3 separate regions of the Homo sapiens genome follow, and regions 2 and 3 are each linked to region 1. Evidence: fine-mapped expression QTL. A gene starts in region 1. Each other region holds a variant in brackets. All regions are shown on one strand. Distances are from middle to middle. Region 1 holds the start of RSPH3 (radial spoke head 3). Region 2 overlaps TAGAP-AS1 (TAGAP antisense RNA 1). Region 3 overlaps RSPH3 (radial spoke head 3).

Region 1 (2,763 bases):
TCACGCCTGTAATCCCAACACTTTGGGAGGCTGAGGAGGGCGGATCACCAGGTCAAGAGAACAAGACCATCCTGGCCAACATGGTGAAACCCCGCCTCTACTAAAAATACAGAAATTAGCTGGACGGGGTGGCACACGCCTGTAGTCCCAGCTACTCAGGAGGCTGAGGCAGGAGAACCACTTGAACCGGGGAGGCGGAGGTTGCAGTGAGCCAAGATCGCGCCACTGCACTCCAGCCTGGCCACAGAGCGAGACTCCATCTAAAAAAAAAAAAAAAGAAAGAAACTTGTACAAGAACCTATAGTGGCTATCAATTTCTTTATAAAGCCCACTGTGGCTGGTATAGCACTATTGTTTACCCACTTAATACCCACTCAATTCTGCCCCAACATCCTCCTAACAGAATTTGTTCTCCTCCTCCCTGGCCAAGTGTTTCTTGGAGGCCTAGAAAGACCGGTTACCTGGTCTAATCCAAATATGGTGGTCTTATATAGATCCTAAGCTTAAATCAATATGATGTAATTCTGGTCAGTTGGGAGTTTACGAGGGGGTTTTGCTCTTCCAATAAAGACAAAAGAGCAGATACTTCTATTACTACTTTGTTGAAGCCAACAACCCAGGTGACAGAGTGGAAAGGTAGGGGAAAAAACGTGTTGTTGATAATGTGCTGAGCCCCCAAGTTACCCTCCAGGTTAACCAACCTGGGGAGTGTAAAATAATGAATTCCTTATTATTTCAGCCACTTGGAATTGGTTTTTTGTTACTTGAGGGAAAAAATATTCTAATTAATATGCTAGTGTTTACTGTTTCCACGATGTGGTGTCAGCCTGTCTATATATATTTCTACAACTCATCTACACAAACCTTGCTTACAGTTTTCCAAATGCACCTTGGGCTTCTTGAGCCTTTGATCAAGCCATTCCGAATGCACTTCCCCCAAGAGGCTGGCCAGTTAAAATACTATCATTTATCAAACACAACTTAAATGTCACTTTCTCCTCTAGCCCTTTCAGAAATTACCTCAAAATTAAATGATCAGACCTAAAATATGTTGGGAGTGTTTTCACCTCTAGAATTTACCATACACCTTTATGCTAGTGTTACTTATAGAATGCCTACATCTGCTTTAGGTCATACACTTCAAAGCACAGAACGGTCCAGATCTTAATATAAAGGCTTGCCATTTACCAGGCACAGCTCTAAGTATTAACGGTTTTAATCCTCAAGACAAAACCTAAAGAGATAAATTCTTCTATTGCCACTTTGTGGATTAGGAAAATGAAGCACAAAAACATTTAACTTGCCTGAGGTTTCGGAGCTAGTACATTCTAGAACCTGGATTCAAATCAAGACAGCAATTAGCTGAATGAAGGTGTAACTGCAAATGCAAATAACTGATCACAAGGGATACACATTCACTCATACAAGATAGAAGATTTTTAACGTTGCTGGTACTAAAACCAAAGCGTCTGCGTTTTTAAGCGCAGCCCCACCCCGCAATACTAGAGACATTCTTTAGAGCTGGAAGCCTGATAGATTAAGGGGAACTATGCCTTTGTATTTTTTAAGACTCAATAAATTGCTCACTTCTTTCCCAAAATGAGGTGTCTGTGGGGGAGGCCCCTGTCGCTCCGTGTGCCAAGGGTCCTCCGATTGCTAGCACACAGCGGTGAGCAGAGAAGGTAGGTGAGGAACTGCACTGACTCAGCTGCAGAGGGCGGCGGCAGCCCGCCCCTGGGGCGGGAGAAGGGCAGGAGCCGGGAGACACCAGGAAGCTCTTCCCCGCCCGGGCACGTAACAGAGCTGGGAGCCTGGCTGCCAGGGGCGTGTTATCGCGGGGGCAGCCTGGGAGCGCTGCTGCGCCGCGGCAGGAGAAACAGCCGAGGACACCCTGGAAGAGCAGGAGCACGTGGGCCTGCGAGAATGGCGCCAACACCAGCCCTGCAAAGCCACATTCCAAAGCCGGGCCAAGGACAGCCACCGTTGCCCCGCAGGCCTCAAGGATGACGGTCAAGCCAGCCAAGGCCGCCTCCCTAGCCAGGAACCTCGCAAAGCGCAGGCGCACCTACCTGGGTGGCGCGGCTGGGCGGAGTCAAGAGCCGGAAGTCCCTTGTGCCGCAGTCCTTCCCGGGAAACCTGGGGACCGGAACTGCCCGGAGTTCCCGCCCCCAGACAGAACCCTGGGTTGCTGGGCAACCGATGCGGCCCCCGCAGCTGGTCTCTGTGGTGCTGGGAGCGAGCCCAGTATAGCTCCCACCTCCTGCGCTGGTAACCTCCCGTCCCGCCCGCCTCCCTTGTTGTCGCCTCTCCTCGCGTCGCGGAATCCTTGCCCTTGGCACTACTTACATCTCTCCGGGTCCCACAACACCTTAGCGCCCACCTGCTTCAAAGCCAAGCTCCACCGAAAGCGAGGCAGTCAGCCCCCGGACATGGCCTCAGCGCTGACTGATCGCACCTCTCGGGCCCCGAGCACCTACACCTACACCAGCCGGCCCCGAGCACTGCCCTGCCAGCGCAGCCGTTACCGGGACAGCCTGACGCAGCCGTGAGTGACCAAGCCAGCCCCTGTGTGGTCCATACTTGCACCCCATCCCCAGGCCGGGGTCTGGCCCCTTCGCCCTGGCAAAAAAGCTGCTTATGCTGTCTTCCCTTGGCTGCACTCTGCCGAAATAAAAGTTCTGCCCTAAGGAATCTCCCGTGGTGTGGAGGAGTGAAGCAGGAAGGGGCATGGGTTGGGCATCAGTTAACTTTTAGTGATATGAG
Region 2 (2,767 bases), 31 kb before region 1:
CTTCTTCTAAGGACACCAGTTATACTGGATTAGGACACAACCTAATGACCTCATTTTACCTCTGTAAAGACCCTCTCTCCAAATATAGTCACATTCTGAGATGTTGGGGATTAGGACTTCAACATATGAATTTGGATAGGGCAAGACACAATTCAACCCATAACACCAAGTTTTTCAAAATACTACTTAATGATACCTTGAATATGCCAATAATTTGAATATTTCACCATAACCAGAGAGCTAGGGCTTCTAGTGAGATTTAGATGACAATAAAATGATGCTTTAGTCAAGGATCCAGGAACACCAGAGTTCTGTCCTCTATTGACTTCCTAAGGGCCCACACTAATGACAAATGGGACAATCACAGATGTACCTGATGCAAAGTGTATAGTAAAACCGGGTTGGAAGCCTAATTAGGAGCTCAAACTTAAATTCAGGTCTGATTCCCTGGGAGATGCTCTCTCCTCCGGTAAAGAGGGGGAGAGGTGGATGACCCATGATACACGGATTATCTGTGCTGACACACTGTGCACCATGCCCCCAACCCACACACCAGCACTACTGAGGACTGAAAGAAATTAAAACTTGTTTCAGAAATGTTGACTTGTGTTAGGTGCTTTTGCAGGAGCTTAGCAAAACTAAGATTGCACCAGAACTTGAACGCAACAAATACAACACCTGTGTTACACTGGGGTCCCTAGGAAGTTGAAGTCGCAGCTATGGTTTTTAGCGCTAACAAAACAAATGACAGTTAATGGCCATAGCACATCCTATGGCCATAGATAGAATGTGCAAAGAGCTACAAACACTGTTTATCCTTAGGTTTATCCTAAATTAAAAGTATACATTGATAGATAAATTCTTCTGATCATGATCTCACTGGAAAAATCGCCAATACATGCTTCTCTCTTGAAAGGTCAGACAGAAACTCACATCGGATGCGATCTTACATGTTTCCAGTTTCTTTTTTAATTAAATTATGTAATCTTAACTCTTCCTCTGCAAAAAGAGAATTACTGAGGAATCAGAGGTATAAACGTTTTGCTAGAATTGGAAGTGAATCACTTTTTAGCAATATTTTAAATGTGGACTGAACTTCTGCATTATGTTCACTCCAGAGTAAAAATTAAATGTAAATGAGGAAAAACAAATGGGATGAAGTTCTTCCTCCTACTACAGGCTACAAAGAGGGGGGCATTGTGAAACAAGCAAACTTGCAGAATGCAAAATCTGGCCAGAAATAGGAAATGCAGAATGTTAACATCTCCGTGGAAAAAGAAAGACAACGTGTTGACACAGAATGAATATACGACCCAAATTCACAGAACCTGAGTCTGTGAATACCCCGAAATCTGCTCCCATGCACAGGGCACTAAACCTGTCTGAGCTCC[G/A]GTTTCTCCATCTATCAGATGAGGGTAATGATAACTTGCATCAGTTACGGAACGCATGTAACAGAAAACCCAGACAACAGACGCTTAACCAAGAAGGAGGTTTGTGCGCTCTATGAAAAGAACAGACTGGCAGCCCAGGGCTGGGATGAAGGCTCATGGCCTCCTCCGGCCCCGGGTTCCTTCATACTCAGAGCCAGTTGCATGGGGCTATGACCTGTGGACCCAATGCTAGGGTAATTCTCTGCTATTGGCATTTTTAGAGTATTAATAATTGAGAACAGGAGCCTTGCATTTCCACTTTGCACTGGGCCCTGCAAATTATGTAGCCAGTCTTGTGCACAACTTCAACTTTCTAGTCTACCATCCTTTCTGGGAACATGATCCTCTTCCCCCAACCTTTCCCTCCAGATCCCAAGCAGGAACTTTCTGCTCAATAACCTCTACCTCCATCCCAGAGGCCAGAACTTAGTACGTGGCTTCTCTTTTTTTTTTTTTTTTTTTTTTTTTTTTTTGAGACGGAGTCTCACTCTGTTGCCCAAGCTGGAGTGCAGTGGCACGATCTCGGCTCACTGCAACCTCTGCCTCCTGGGTTCAAGCCATTCTCCTGCCTCAGCCTCCCAAGTAGTTGGAAGTACAGGCGCATGCCACCACACCTAGCTAATTTTTTGTATTTTAGTAGAGACGGGGTTTCACCGTGTTGCCCAGGCTGGTCACGAACTCCTGAGCTCAGGCAATCTGCCTGCCTCGGCCTCCCAAAGAGCTGGGATTACAGGCGTGAGCCACCGCACTCGGCCAGTACGTGGCTACTCTTACCAGCAGAGGAACCTAAGAATACAGTTTTTATAGCCAATTGCCTCTCCCAGCAAAATCAGTAAGAAATTAGGAGATGGATACTGCAAGGCCTTGACACAAAAGTCAAATAAAAGAGATCGTAGGTACAACGAAACAAATCCAAATTTAGTTGCTCAATGATTAAAAAGGCAGGATAAAGTAGACTATCTACTTAATATGAGACCATTGAAAATGTTCCATATGATTAGGAATAATAAAAAGATAAGGTAGATAACAGTCTCAAGAGTATTTCAATTATTTGTATGCTCACTGTGAGAATTTTACAATTATACAACAGTAGTTTTAAGCAAAATAAATTAGTAACAAATATTGGCCTCCTACAATATAAAAATATTGCATTTGTATAAGGAATTTACAATCTAGTAGAGAAATAAGACACCTTTGACAGCAAAGGTAAGTTCCAAGTGAGTGATAATAACACAAAATACATAGTAGAAATGAATGGCTGCTTCATGGTCTCATTACTTTAGGATATACTTCACATTTAAAGGAAACTTAAAGATTTCAAACAAGTGCAAGTACAA
Region 3 (2,740 bases), 22 kb after region 1:
AAGAAGGATCCCTGATCTCTGCCACTAGGGAGCCCATAGCCTGATAGCTGTCTGTCTGTATCCCCTCAAAGTCCACGTTCCTAGCTGCTCAGCCAGTGGAAAGGAAGAGTTGCATGTCCTCACCACCACCCACCTTCCTCAGAGTGAAAAGCACTTACATCCACCGTGCTTGGTGTATAGGTCCTATTTTGTTGGCCAGTAGTATCTTGGGACACATGTTAGTAATGATAATTTTCACTGATTACATATTCAATTCAATACAAAGAGGTCAGATCACAGACAAATATTATTAATATACATAGTATTTTTCATAGGTGATATCATTTGATACTCTCAATAACCCTGTAGGATAGACAGGTCAGATAGAATTCCCATTTTTTCAGAAATAGAAACTGAAGCTCAGAGAAGTTAAATGCCTTGCTCCCAAATCCTCAGGCAGTGGAAATATTAGGCCTCAAACTGACTTGGAACTCAGACTCCAAGTCCAGTGTTCATTCTCGGCTATCATCCTGCTGTCCTGGGCTCTAGCTTGGACTCTAACTGTTAGCCAGAGAGACCAGTAGCCTTTTTTCTATCACAGATTACCAAAAAAGTAAGTTATAGATCATTTAAAAGCTTGCAAATGAAATTCATACCTGAGATAAAAATTATTTATAGTAGTGAATATAATATTCTATCACTCTCCATTTCATCCTATTGAAAAATAAAATTAGATGCCTGCCCCAAAAAATGCTATTTTGAAACTTTAAAATGTATATTGTAATAGACCATATTTTTAAAATGCTTACACAGTAGATTTCAGTTTGAACAAACTTGATACTGATGGAAACACCTAGTTTCTGACCTATTTCTAGATGACTGCCTCCTCAAATGCCCTCTCACTGCATTCTCTGAGTCTGATCAGCTTCCTTCCATTAGGCCCTGGGCTTCAGGTGGAGACTTTCTTTTACTGGCATTGCTCAATCCCAGATTTGCATTGCATTTGGATTGGAGTTCTCCCAAACCCACATCCTCCCCCTGCCTCCCTGATCCATCTCAGATTGCACCTATGAAGGAAACTCCAAATGCCTTGACTCCAAGGAAGGCCTCATAGTTCTTAAAATATTGGGCAAGGTGTGGTGGCTCACACCTGTAATCCTAGAACTTTGGGAGGCCGAGGCGGGTGAATCACGATGTCAGGAGATTGAGACCATCCTGGCCAACATGGTGAAACCCTGTCTCTACTAAAAATACAAAAATTAGCCAGGTGTGGTGGCGTGTGCCTGTCGTCCCAGCTACTCAGAAGGCTGAGGCAGGAGAACCACTTGAACC[T/C]GGGAAGCGGAGGTTGCAGTGAGCAGAGATCGCGCCACCGCACTCCAGCCTGGGCAACAGAGTAAACCTCTGTCTCAAAAAAAATAAAAAAATAAAAATAAAAAATCACTTATGCAACAGAAAGGAAACTGACCAGAACATATATAAGGAATATGGCAAAAGTTATGCTGTATGAGTCTACTTAACATTTTATATTAAGAAACCAATGTTGATGAGTCTATTACATTAAGAGAAAAGCGCATTATTCCTCTGATAATACATGAAAATCAATGAATTCTTTTATTACAGATATTGAGATAGGATTTCTTCCATGGCTAATGAATGAAGTTGAAAAAACCATGGAATATAGCATGGTGGGAAGAACAGTGCTTGACAGTAAGTTATTTTATCCAAAAATTCATCTCTAAAGTTTTTAGTAGAAAGAATAAATTGAATAACTGAAAGAAAGATTAATTTTACAGTTTGAATATTTAAACTTTTAGTATATCAATTGTATTAATAAAAGTGCAAATTTTTACCCTCAATATTATTTTTGGCTCTTCTATAATTTGCTATCTATTAATATCTTCTGCCATTACTTTATAAATGATACTCTGTGAAAACAGAATATATTTTATATTTAATGCATTAAGTGTGAAGTATGCTGACTTCCAAAAAAGGTTATGACATAGGAAAGAGATGAGGCTTCGTGAAGGTTTTTGTAATCATCTATAAGTGAGCATTATAACTCCTGAAATATACCATAATATGAAAATCATAGTGATGTCTGAACATTTAACTTTTCAGTGTTGATCCGTGAGGTGGTTGAAAAGAGGCTGTGTATGTATGAGCATGGGGAAGACACACATCAGTCTCCAGAACCCGAGGATGAGCCTGGTGGTCCTGGAGCAATGACAGAGTCACTGGAGGCCTCTGAATTCCTGGAGCAGAGCATGTCACAGACACGGGAGCTGCTTTTAGATGGAGGCTACCTACAAAGAACAACATATGACAGAAGGTCATCCCAGGAAAGGAAGTTTATGGAAGAGAGAGAACTCTTAGGGCAAGATGAAGAAACAGCAATGAGGAAGTCCTTAGGGGAGGAAGAATTGTCATAGGAGGGAAGCTTCAAAGTCATGAAACCAATCAACAGCCAAGTCAGCAAGCAATCAGGTAATGATGTGCGAGTCCCCTCAGGTTATAGAAATTATGTTGTATTTAGTCAGTATGTCTTTTTGTGTAATGGACTGGGCCAATCAAATGTGATAAAATTAATTTGAGAATGAAACTTAAATTGAATTCATTTATTTAATAGAATATTCAAAGGCTATATTGTAATTCTAATGAGAATTATATTTAATTACTAGCTTTCTATTACCATTATATGTAACCAGCAAATATATTTTTCCTTAGCCCTTCTAATTTTGCGGGTTAGTTTTTTTTAGTAAGT

The links. PIP is the estimated chance that this variant, and not a neighbour inherited with it, causes the effect. A credible set is the group of variants that fine-mapping cannot tell apart.
Region 2: its variant is the best candidate, but not a certain one, in a credible set for the expression of RSPH3 in monocytes (TOPMed, PIP 0.56).
Region 3: its variant is the best candidate, but not a certain one, in a credible set for the expression of RSPH3 in unexposed skin (GTEx, PIP 0.87).

What each region holds. Positions count from the first base shown.
Region 1 is chr6:158,999,217-159,001,979 of GRCh38, reverse strand. RSPH3 (radial spoke head 3) reads left to right here and starts at 1,778. Exons shown (of 8, transcript NM_031924.8): 1 at 1,778-2,545. The coding sequence starts at 2,430. TAGAP-AS1 (TAGAP antisense RNA 1) reads right to left here and starts at 2,107. Exons shown (of 5, transcript NR_183546.1): 1 at 1,588-2,107. RefSeq lists enhancers at 1,470-1,519, 1,092-2,063, 1,930-2,089, 2,260-2,329, 2,360-2,409 and 2 more.
Region 2 is chr6:159,030,437-159,033,203 of GRCh38, reverse strand. All of the region lies in intron 3 of TAGAP-AS1 (TAGAP antisense RNA 1), which reads right to left. Among named protein-coding and RNA genes, the nearest start is that of TAGAP, 13 kb to the left of the region's middle. The variant G/A (reference allele first, on the strand shown) is at 1,392.
Region 3 is chr6:158,977,206-158,979,945 of GRCh38, reverse strand. It overlaps RSPH3 (radial spoke head 3), which reads left to right. Exons shown (of 8, transcript NM_031924.8): 7 at 1,600-1,686; 8 at 2,098-2,740. The coding sequence ends at 2,408. Among named protein-coding and RNA genes, the nearest start is that of TAGAP-AS1, 21 kb to the left of the region's middle. The variant T/C (reference allele first, on the strand shown) is at 1,312.